Regions from separate parts of the Homo sapiens genome. Here region 1 is linked to region 2. Evidence: fine-mapped QTL for protein levels in blood plasma. Region 2 holds a variant in brackets. A gene starts in the other region. All regions are shown on their forward strands.

Region 1 (5,303 bases), not on the chromosome of region 2:
TAAAATCCAGTTTGGGATTTATCCAGGCCACATCTTCTATTTTCCCCTCTAATGCCTACCTTCTTTAAACTGTCCCCATCCCACTTCCCCCAGAAAGGATATTCAGTTTTTTATGGCACCTCTCCCCAAAAGCACATAGAAATAACATTTGGTTCTGTTCCCATTAGGGTTGGTTGAGAAAGGACTTTGAAGCTATGGAATAAAAGTCGCGCTAGCGCACTGCAGCTTCAATTCCTGGTCTCAAGCGAGCCTCCCGCCTCAACCTCCGGAGTAACTGGGACTACCGGCCCAAGCCACTACACCTGGCCAAGGAAGTAACCCTTAATTAATAGTTCATGATGTTATTTTCCTTTACAACTCGGGGTAACAAATACAAAATTTAATATAAGATGTGAGCATTTTAACTCCATTTTAAGAGAGGTGTCCAGTGTGGTTGGACTAAAGCCCCTTTCTCGTAAGCATCCACAATTCCTCATTCCTGCACATCTCCTCCCTTGGGACCATACATAAAAACTCAACTCCTCATCTTGGGCACCTGAAAATCTACTTTAACAGAGAAAGCGCTCTAGATGGCAGGTGTCCTTAGAGCTGGGAGCGAAGCCCAAGCAAGAACTAAAGAGGGTGGCTGACTCCACAAAGCCACCCCCACAACCCCCAGTTCGCGTTCCTCCACCTGGCAGGTCCTCTGGGGAACCGCCAGTAACGGGCGCGCGGGTACCGTCGCCGAGGCCGCCCGGAGCAGGGCAGGGTCCGCCGCCGGTCTGACTCCCAAACCCGCTTTTCTCCGGAGGTCCCCGCTCGCCAGGACCGCTCCGAGCGCTACCTGCGAAGGTAACTGCCAGGAGCAGCAGCGCCAAGCGCAGCACCGACAGCGCCATCCTCCTCCCGCGCCGGCTGTCTTGCCCCTGCGGTCTGTTACCTGCGCCACTCGCAGGGAGCGCTCGTGCGACGGGGCGCGGGGAGGGCGGGGGAAGGGGCGGGGCGAGAATGGGAGGAAAAGCAGCGGTAGGTGGCGAGGGAAGAGGGGCGGCGGGAAGAGGAGCGGCGGGAAGAGGAGCCGTGAAGGGTCGGGGGAGAACCGGAAAGGGCTGGGAAGGAGAAAGGTAGAAGGACGGGGGAGGGGGCCATGGGGAAGGAGGGGCGAGGGAGATAGAGGAAGGGGCAGTTGTTCCCCAACACCTTCCCCTCCCCCCAAGGAGACGAAGGGGAAGACCTCTCCCTCCGACATACAAGAACCTGTGACAGTCCTAGGGGGACCCTTGTGGAGCTCTTGGGAGCTCTGTCAATCAACACCTATTTCTTAAGCATGTACTAAGTCCCAGATAGTGTTTCGTTGCTGAAGACACAGCCCTGACCTCGACAAAGGAGGTCCTTGCTCTCAGGAAGCGTTCTGCCTTTCCCTCTTTTAATATATTTTTTAACTATTTGAGTTGACACATAATGATTGTACATATTTATGGGGGTACATAGTGATATTTGGATACATACAATGTGTAGTGATCAAAATAGGATAATTAGCATATTCATCACCTCAAACATTTATCATTACTTTGTGTTGAGAACATTCAAAATCCTCTCATCTAGCTACTTGAAAATACATAATAAATTATTATTATTATTTAAATTTCAGACAGGGTCTCGCTCTTTTACCCAGGCTGGAGTGCAGTGGCACGATCTCAGCTCACTGCAACCTCCACCTCCCAGGTTCCAGTGATCCTCCCACCTCAGCCTCCCTCCCAAGTAGCTGGGACCACAGATATATGCCACCATGCCAAGCTAATTTTTGCATTTTTTGTAGAGAGGGGTTCTCACCATGTTGCCCAGGCTACTCTCAAACTCCTGGGCTCAAGCAATCCGCCCACCTTGGCCTCCCAAAGTGCTGGGATTACAGGCTTGAGCCACCGTGCTCGACCTTTATAATATATTATTGTTAATTGTCGGCACCCTACAATGCTATGAAACACTAGCACTTATCCTTTCTACCTAGCTGTAATTTTGTATACTTTAACCAACCTCTCCCTATCCCCCTATCCTTCCCAGCCTCTAGTAACTACTGTTCTACTCATTACTTCTGTGAGAAATAATTTTTGCCAAAGAGGCTGAGCAAGTTAGTGCATTAAGGCCAGGCGTGGTGGCTCACGCCTCTAATCCCAGCACTTTGGGAGGCTGAGCCTGGTGGATCACTTGAGCTCAAGAGTTTGAGAGGAGCCTGGGCAACAGGGCAAAACCCCGTCTCTAAAAAAAGTACAAAAATTAGCCAGGTGTGGCCATTGAGCTGAGATTGAGCTACTGCGCTCCAGCCTCAGTGGCAAAATGAGACCATGTCAAAAAAATTTGGCCAGGCACGGTGGTTCATGCCCGTAATCCCAGCACTTTGCGAGGCTGAGGCAAGTAGATCACTTGAGGCCAGGAGTTTGAGACCAGCCTGGCCAACATGGCAAGACCCCATCTCTACTAAAAATACAAAAATTAGCTGTGCATGGTGGTGCGCACCTGTAGTCCCAGCTACCTGGGAGGCTGAGGCATGAGAATTGCTTAAACCCAAGAGGCAGAGGTTGCAGTGAGCCGAGATGGTGCCACTGCACTCCAGCCTGGGCGACAGAGTAAGACTCTGTCAAAAAAAAAAAAAAGTGCATTAGCAGATCCACTTTTTTTTTTTTCTGCTTCTTATGCCTGTGTGTCAAATGATTCTGTGACATGTTGCCTTATCAGTAAGGGTCCAGTCTGGAAAACACAAGGTTTACTAGGTATTTCACCAGAGATAATTTAGTATAAGGAATTGGCTAATCCAGTAGGGATAACTGAAAAAAGCAGAAAGGGAAAACGAGGTAACACAGAGATAAAGCCTTTAGGAAGTAGGCATCATGCCTCGATCTAGGGGAACAAACGGATTAGGTTGGGATTCTCAGAACTAGAAATTTGGAGGAGAGGTCCTGGAAAGCTGGGACTCAGACCCATGGGAAGGGGGTGTTGCTTGGATATGCAGGTGGCTCTAAGAGTGTGTGGAAAAGCTGAAGACTGGAGCCAGGTGCAGTGGCTCACACCTGTAATCCCAGCACTTTGGGAGGTTGAGGTGGGTGGGTCACTTGAGGTCGGGAGTTCGAGACCAGCCTGGCCAACATGGTGAAACCTTGTCTCTACTAAAAAATATAAAACTTAGCTGGACATGGTGCCATACTCCTGTAATCCCAGGTTCATGAGAATCTCTTGAACCTAGGAGGTGGAGGTTGTGGTGAGCGAAGCACACCACTGCACTCCAGCCTGGGCAACAGAGTGAAACTCTGTCTCAAAAAAAAAAAAAAAAATGCTGGAGACTGGAGCCAGCTGATTCTATCAGAGTGATGAAGAGTCATTGCTGTGGCACTGCTGAAAGAAACAGCCAGCAGGCAGGAGCCAGTCCCTTCTCCCTCCTCCTGCCTTCCGGTGTCCCCCTGACAGACCCTATGGGCATAACCTTCTGGAAGCCAGCTGAAAAAGCAGAAATGAGGTCTGCTGAGACCTGGCACCACATAGCAGAGTGTAGAAGGGGGTTGTAGAGCTGATGGAGAATCATCTTATGACTGGCATGTTCCCATGCCCACCCTTGACCTTAGCAACCTCAAAGGCTGGAACAAGAAGACACTGTGCAGTTTTTAACTCCACTTGGCACCACACATGGCTGAGTTCTGGCTGGAATCCTGTCTGAGGCCAAGGGGTAAATTTGAAATGAGTGTTAGTACTTCTCTAAGTCACATCACATTCAGTTCTTTGAATAACAGTCATGAAATGGTCATGGGTCATTTTGCTGAAGATTCTTATCAAGGATTGATAAAATATAATTTATATATAAAGCTTTTCTCAACTGTGCTGGATGTCTGTTACCAAATGACATGTGCACTTGCTTACAAACACCTTTGATGCTCTGGGAACACAAATCTGACCCAGACTCAGGGGCAATGCTCAGAGGTGTGTGAGTAGGAATTTCAGCTTCAAAAGAAAAGCCATTTACCCCTCAAGATAGATTTTTTATAAATTTATGTGTGTGGATACAGCTGCCTTTAGGTTATTTTGTTTCAAAGAGTTGACACTGACTGGCAGGGTGGCTCATGCCTGTAATCCCAGCACTTTGGGAGGCAGAGGCGGGCAGATTGTTTGAGCCCAGGAGTTGGAGACCAACCTGGGCAACATGACAAAACCCTGTCTCTAAAAAAATACAAAAATTAGCCTGGTGTGGTGGCGCGCACCTGTAGTCCCAGCTACTTAGGAGGCTGAGGTGGGAGGATCACCTGAGCCTGGGAGGTGGAGGCTGCAGTGAGCCATGATCACACCACTGCATTTCAGCCTGGGTGACAGAGCGAGACTCCGTCTCAAAAAAAAAAAAAAAATGTTGATAATTATACCTTAGAAATATTTTCTATCATGGTGCTTTTCACATGTTGTCTCAGCATTTGTGAGCCAAGAACAAGGGTCAAAAAACATTTTCTGTAAAGGGCCAGATAGTAAATACCATTGACTTCTTGTCACAACTAAACTCTGCCATTGCAGTGCAAAAGGAGACATAGACTATAACTCAATGAATGGGCATAACTGTATTCTTTTTTTTTTTTTTTTTGAGAGAAGATCTTGCTGTGTCACCCAGGCTGGAGTACAGTGGCGCAATCTCAGCTCACTGCAGCCTCAACCTCCTGGGCTCAAGCGATCCTCCCACCTCAGCCCCACAAGTAGCTAGGAATACAAGCATCCGCCACCACACCCAGCTAATATTCTTGTATTTTTTGTAGAGGTAGGTGATATGGTTTGGCTGTGTCCCCACTTAAATCTCAACTTGAATTCTATCTCCCGGATTTCCCAAGTGTTGCGGGAGGGACCCAGGGGGATAATTGAATCATGGGGGCCAGTCTTTCCCATGCCATTCTCATGATAGTGAATAAGTCCAGGAGATCTGATGGGTTTATCAGGAGTTTCCATTTTTGCTTCCTCCTCATTTTTTCTCTTGCTCCTGCCATGTAAGAAGGGCCTTTCACCTCCCACCATGATTGTGAGGCCTCCCCAGCCATGTGGAACTGTAAGTCCAATTAAACCCTTTTTTCTTCCCAGTCTCATGTATGTCTTTATCAGCAGCATGAAAATGGACTAATACAGTAAATTGGTACCAGGAGAGTGGGGCGTTGCTGAAAAGATACCAAAAATGTGGAAGTGAATTTGGAACTGGGTAACAGGCAGAAGTTGGAACAGTTTGGAGGGCTCAGAAGAAGACAGGAAAATGTGGGAAAGTTTGGAACTTCCTAGAGACTTGCTGAATGGCTTTGCCCAAAATGCTGATA
Region 2 (5,366 bases):
AGGACACAGGAGTGACCCATCCATTCTCTGGCCTGGGAGCCCCCTTCTACCCTGCCACATCCTCAGGGACAGAGAAATTTAGACAGGAGGGACTGGCTGGTGGGGGCGGTGCTGCCAAAAGATGCGAGCTGCAGAAGTGTTTGAGGAAAGGTGGGGATGAGGGAGGACAAAGGAGAGGGAAGCCAGGTTCTGAAGACCTTTTCTGGAAAGCAGGGGGTGCCCTGTCCAAAGGGGCCTAAGCTCAGAGGGAGGGAGAGAGACGAACTCCTTCCTATCCATGGAGCGGGAGGTGACGGTGTGAAGCTGGCGGGACTTGCACCCCTTCCAGCCACCCTGGGCTTGGAAGAGAACGCTGATGGGCTGGGGGTACTCATGCCCTGGGACTACCTGGCAACAGGGTGAGGGACATGCTGCAGCCATAGGCGCCCAGAATGTGCATGGGTGTGACTTCAGGCTGAGGCCAAATTGACTAGGCCCGGGGTAGTAGCAGCTGGATGTGGGCTCTTTCTGACCCACTAGCTGCTTCTAACTAACCCAAAAACCCCCAGAAAAACCTTGGCGGGTCAAGAGATGAAAACGCAGCCCAGAGAATAGCTCCATACTGCCCCCGTGTGGTGTTCTCAAGCACTGCCCCCTCCCTATGCAGAAATCTAAGGCTAACAAGCGGATTTCATTAAAGGTCTGGTTTGTTTTAAACAGATTATCTATGTGTAACTCTCCATTTATACAAGATAAATCAGGGAATTACCATTTGCTGTACAAAATGACGATGCACTTTACTAAAGAATTCATCATGGGATTCCTATAAGTGGTGATTTTTTCCCCGATGTGTAAAAAATAATAATGAGGTAAAATTGATATTACACCTTTTATAGAAACCCATCTGTTGTGCAAAAAAAGCATGTGTATTTGGCTAAATACTGAAACCCGGAGGGGCACTGCTGTTGCCAGGAGCCAGCAGGGGCTTTGAGGGTGCCACCAGCTGCTGGAGGAAAGCAAGGAAATGGGCTGGCCCTGGTGGCTTGAGAGCAGACCTGGGCCAGAGTGCCTAAGAATTAAGAGCAGGACTGGGTAGAGACCACCTACCCACAGGGCAAATCCCCAAGCTCCACCCCCATGGTCAGAGAGTCCCATTGAGAAAATCTGGAGTGGCTTTGAAACAGCCCGGGGGCCGGCAGGAAGGCTCAGCGGAGAACCACACTTTGGGGAACACAGTCCTACACCTCTGCCCTCAGTCCCACTGGAAGCCCCGCCCCCACCCCAAAGACTGAAGCATCACCCAGAACCTGATGGGTGGAGAGAAGGACTGAGCAGGTGACAAGGAGAAGGGTGAGGGGAGCGTGCAGGGAAGCGGTACCGGCTGCCGACGCCGCAGCCTGTCTCTACCGTGGGCACACAAAAGAATCAGGCCGGTGCCCCCTAAGCCTACCTCCCCAGAGGGCATTCGACCCGGGAAGCCTCGCTCCCTGCTAATCATTCTTCCTCGCCCCTTCCAATCCCCGCTACTCGCTTACCTGGTCCCTGCGGGTCCCCCAGGGCCCGCCCCTGCACGCCCCCTCCTCGCCGGGCCTCCCACTCACCTGCGGCTCCGCGCGGGGGCGGTGGGCACCGGCTGGCCCTGGCTCTGTGCCTGGCTCTGCCCGGGCGGGGGCGCTGCTCGCTTGCGGGCGGGCTCCATGCCCGCGGGGGCCAGGCCGGGTCGCACGGCGGGGCTGCCCATGTACGGGGAGCCCGGGGGGCCCATGGGCGCCCCCTGGTGGGGCATCCGGGCTCCAGACGGCATCCCGGGGCGCTGGGGGTGGGCGGGGGTGAAGCAGAAACGGGCGCCCGTGGGTCAGACCAGGGCCCCCCGCTCCAGGCGCGGTGAGCCGGCGTCTCCCCTCCCCCACCAGACCCTCGGCTGGTGACCCTGAGCGTTGAGCGATGGGTGGGAGCGATGGGTAGGAGGGGCAGGGGCGCCGGAATCTGCGCGGCTCTGGCGGAGGGGCTTGGCGTCTGGCTGCAGGAAGCTAACTGAAGCCAGGCACCGCACAGGGCATTGCGAGCCTCGGGGCTGCGGAAGGTACCGCAAAAATGAATATTAATGGCGCCTTTCAACCTTTCAAAGATGTTCACATCCACATGCTCCTCTGCAAGACAGCCTGAGCAGGTCCTTTCATCCCCACTTGACGGATGGGGCCACTGTGGCTCAAGGAGAAAAATGACCTCGCCAAGGTCACACAGCTCATCCTGGCCCAGGCAGCCCCTGAAGGGCTGCCTCCTGGGGGCCCAGGGCTTTGCTCTCTGCGGCTTGGTTGAGGTCCGGTACCCGGCTCCCTGCTCCGACTTCTGCTCCTCCTCCTGCTCCTCCTTCTCAGGCTCCACTTCTTGGGCGGTTCTGCCTGGTACTCACTAGCTCATCTCAGCCACTCTGCTCCCTGTGTCCCTGCTTTTGACCCTTGGGTCCCAAACCCCACTCCCCTCGGCTGACTCCAAGTCCCCACATCCAGGGTCTTCGCTGACCAAGCTGCCCCCATAATTTGCTCCCAGGGTGAGGGCTGGAGGCAGGGCAGGCAAGGGCAGCCTGCTGGGGCGCCCCAGACACAGCCAGGATTCTCTGATTGGGAGGAGGGGAACTGCGTTAGAGGTGGGCTGCCCAGGGGGGCCTGGGGTGGGTCAGGGCAGTGACACTTGCACTCACATTTCCCTTCCTGTCTGCCCAGGTCAGCAGCCACCTCCTCCTCTTCCCATCCCCACCCCAGTGAGGTCAGCAGTCAGGGTTCATGGGGGCTGTGGAGACTGAGAGGAGGCGGCTCCTCCTCCCTTGCCACTACCCCTGGGTGGTCAGATGGGGTGTAAATGAGATGCAAATGCATCGAGCGAAGTGTTCCAAACCCCACTTGTCCAGACTCCAGAAGGGAGATGGGGAGGGCCAGAGAGAGTTTCAGGGGCTGTGAAACAGAAAGAGCGGGGTGGGATGGGGACTGGGACCACGAAAGCAGGAAGAAGATCAGAGGGCAGGGGATGCAGACCCTGGCACTGTTAACATGGACACACCACCCACCTCACCCCCAGGCATGAGGAGGGGCCCCCTTGGGCTTGCTGTTTTCCTTCCAACTGCTACCTCTCCCTCCTGGTCCTCCAGGCTCTGTGTCTAACCCTAATGTCCTCCCACCCTCGGTCAGCAGCTGTCTCTGCCTATCTCTCCTGCAGTGAAACCTGCCTGTCCATGTGTCTGCTTCCCTCACCCCACCTGACCCTGTCACTCAGGCCTCCAGGGTAGCAGCCCAGAATGGAGCCCAGGCCTGGCCACCAGCTAGGTGGGGCACTGGGGCTCACAGCCACTCAAGAACTGAA[G/A]CTGTAAGTTGACCAGATTAAAAAAACAGTCCACGTGTACAGCCTCTCCCCACTAGATGGGCCTTTTTAAAGGGGCTCCCACCAGCAGCCAGGTTAGGACTGGTAACTCAGCTAGCTGACATGGACACCTTGGGAAGTTACCCCCAGGGGTCCCTGGGGCTGGAGGACAGGCCACTCCAGGGAGTCCCCCTCTTCCTGTCAGCTGCTCTCCCCAGTTATCAAGGCCAGGGATACTGGCCCATCTGCTGAAGAGGCCCTGAGAGGGAGGCTTTCAGAGCCCCCAGAGAGCTGTGCCCGCCACCAGCCCCATCCCCATGAAAGGCCAAAATCCTAGGGACTCTGGCCTTACTGAGAGGGTGTCTTCCTTGGGGTCACAACCAAATTTGGCCATAGTAAACCCGACAGCTTCCTCTACACAGGGCCTCCACTCCCTCACCCATCCCAAGAGTCGCAGCCCCTGCTTCTCCCATTCCCCACCCCTCCATACCCCTCCCAGCCGGGCCCTACTGACTCAGCTCCAGCCTCCCGGGCTCCCACGTGCCTTCACAGCCTGCCTGTGGCAGGACAGTGCTCCCCTGTCCCTTCGGTCTCTAGGCCTCATGTCCCCAACTCCAGCCCCTTCCTTCACATGTTCGAGGAGTTAAGGACATCAGCTTCTGGTGGCTGAGTCCGCCAAGGAGACCCTCAGAGCCCCTAACTTGGGCTAAGTCCCTAGAGCGGTCCTCTCCCCCACCCTAAGGCAGAAGCTCCAGAGCCCTCCCGCTGGGATGCAGAGGTGGCTCAGCCTGCGAGCTTCCCGCTACAGTGCCTCCAGGGTCACCTGCTCCTTGCTCCGGAGACACAAGCAGTGACACTGTCCCAACGGATGAACAGACAGCCCAGCCCAGCCTCTGCCATGTCCCCATCCCCCACCCCCACCCCCAGGGCAGGGGCAACACCTGGGCCCACAAGGAAAAGAACGAAAGTCAACCTGTCGGCTACAGCGAGGACCCCCTACTTGGGGGGTAGAGTCCCCAAGTCCCACCCCCGCCCCTGACAAGAGCCATGCAAACGCCTCCCTTCCCCGCCTCGCGTCAGACCCGGCCGGCCGCCTGGCGACGTGTTCGGGTGCCAGGGCGCCAGCACAGTCCCGCGGCCGGGCCGTGGGCCATGACGCCCCCCACTAGAGGGGTGGGAGAGCGGGAGCGCCCTCCCGGCCCCTCCCGATCAGCCCTCCATTCAGCCCGAGCCAGCTCGCTTGCCCTCCCCCGCTAACTTTCCCCCACTCACCACCCCATGGACCAGAAACTCAAAAAGTTTGCTTTTCGTGGCTTTGCGCGCCCCTCCGGCAACTTCGTCCGCGGCCATCGGGGTGGGCTCAGCGGCTCCTCTCACTCTCTCTCTCTCTTCCTCTTTCTTTCCCTTTTCTGCCTTTTTTTTTCCTCCAACTCTCCCCTCTGAGTCCTGCTGGGCTCTCTCACACTTCTACTCGAGCGGAGTGGGGAGGGGGCCCCTTCAGGGCTGCCCTGACGGCCCACGGCCCACGCCGCCGCCGCCCGCCCGCCGCCGCCGCCGCCGCCGCGGCTGCCGCATTCCTGCACTGATAAGACAGAAATAGTCCGGCGGCCCGGGGTCTGCCTGTTGACTCGGCGGGGACGGGGCCGCCTGCCTTTCCAAGCCCGCTGTCCAAACAGCGCAGATAAGCGGCGAGGCGCGCCGACCAGCCCGGCCGCGGGCGCTGGGCAGCAGTGCTGCAGCCCGAAGCCGCCGAGGCCCGCGGGAGGCGGCGCGGGGAGGGGACGCCAGGGGAGGCGGCGGGGGGTCGCCGGCCACCGGCTCTCGCCACAAATAGTTTCTCCGTCAGGGAATTCGCCGGCCGCGCCAGGCAGGGAACAGTCAGTTCCAACTTTTCCCCCAGCGGCTCCTGCTGCATTTCTGAGGCCCTTTCCCCAGAGACCTGGCAGGCCGAGCAGGGAAACATTCGCTGGCAGGAACCGGGGGAGCCCGGCCCGCGAGGCCTCGCGCCTGCCCGGGGCCGGCGGCGGTGGGTG

Which allele goes with the higher level. Positions count from the first base shown, and alleles are read on the strand shown. Strength reflects both the effect of a copy and how common the allele is.
As copies of A replace G in region 2, the plasma level of the protein whose gene starts at base 917 in region 1 goes up (moderate association).

The links. A credible set is the group of variants that fine-mapping cannot tell apart. PIP is the chance, under the fine-mapping model, that this variant and not a neighbour inherited with it causes the effect. Protein levels are from antibody-based Olink assays in UK Biobank. Linkage for the fine-mapping came from a reference panel and not from the study's own genotypes, which makes the PIPs less certain.
Region 1: SPINK2 starts here. The variant in region 2 is the best candidate, but not a certain one, in a credible set for the plasma level of the SPINK2 protein (UK Biobank, PIP 0.54).

The regions. Positions count from the first base shown.
Region 1 is chr4:56,820,785-56,826,087 of GRCh38, forward strand. It overlaps SPINK2 (serine peptidase inhibitor Kazal type 2), which reads right to left and starts at 917. Exons shown (of 4, transcript NM_001271718.2): 1 at 674-917. The coding sequence starts at 878. RefSeq lists a silencer at 759-1,018.
Region 2 is chr7:151,243,880-151,249,245 of GRCh38, forward strand. It overlaps SMARCD3 (SWI/SNF related BAF chromatin remodeling complex subunit D3), which reads right to left and starts at 4,815. Exons shown (of 13, transcript NM_001003801.2): 1 at 4,606-4,815; 2 at 1,581-1,792. The coding sequence starts at 4,683. RefSeq lists enhancers at 759-1,333, 1,334-1,907, 1,908-2,482, 2,483-3,056 and silencers at 1,570-1,869, 1,890-1,969, 3,044-3,338. The variant G/A (reference allele first, on the strand shown) is at 3,337.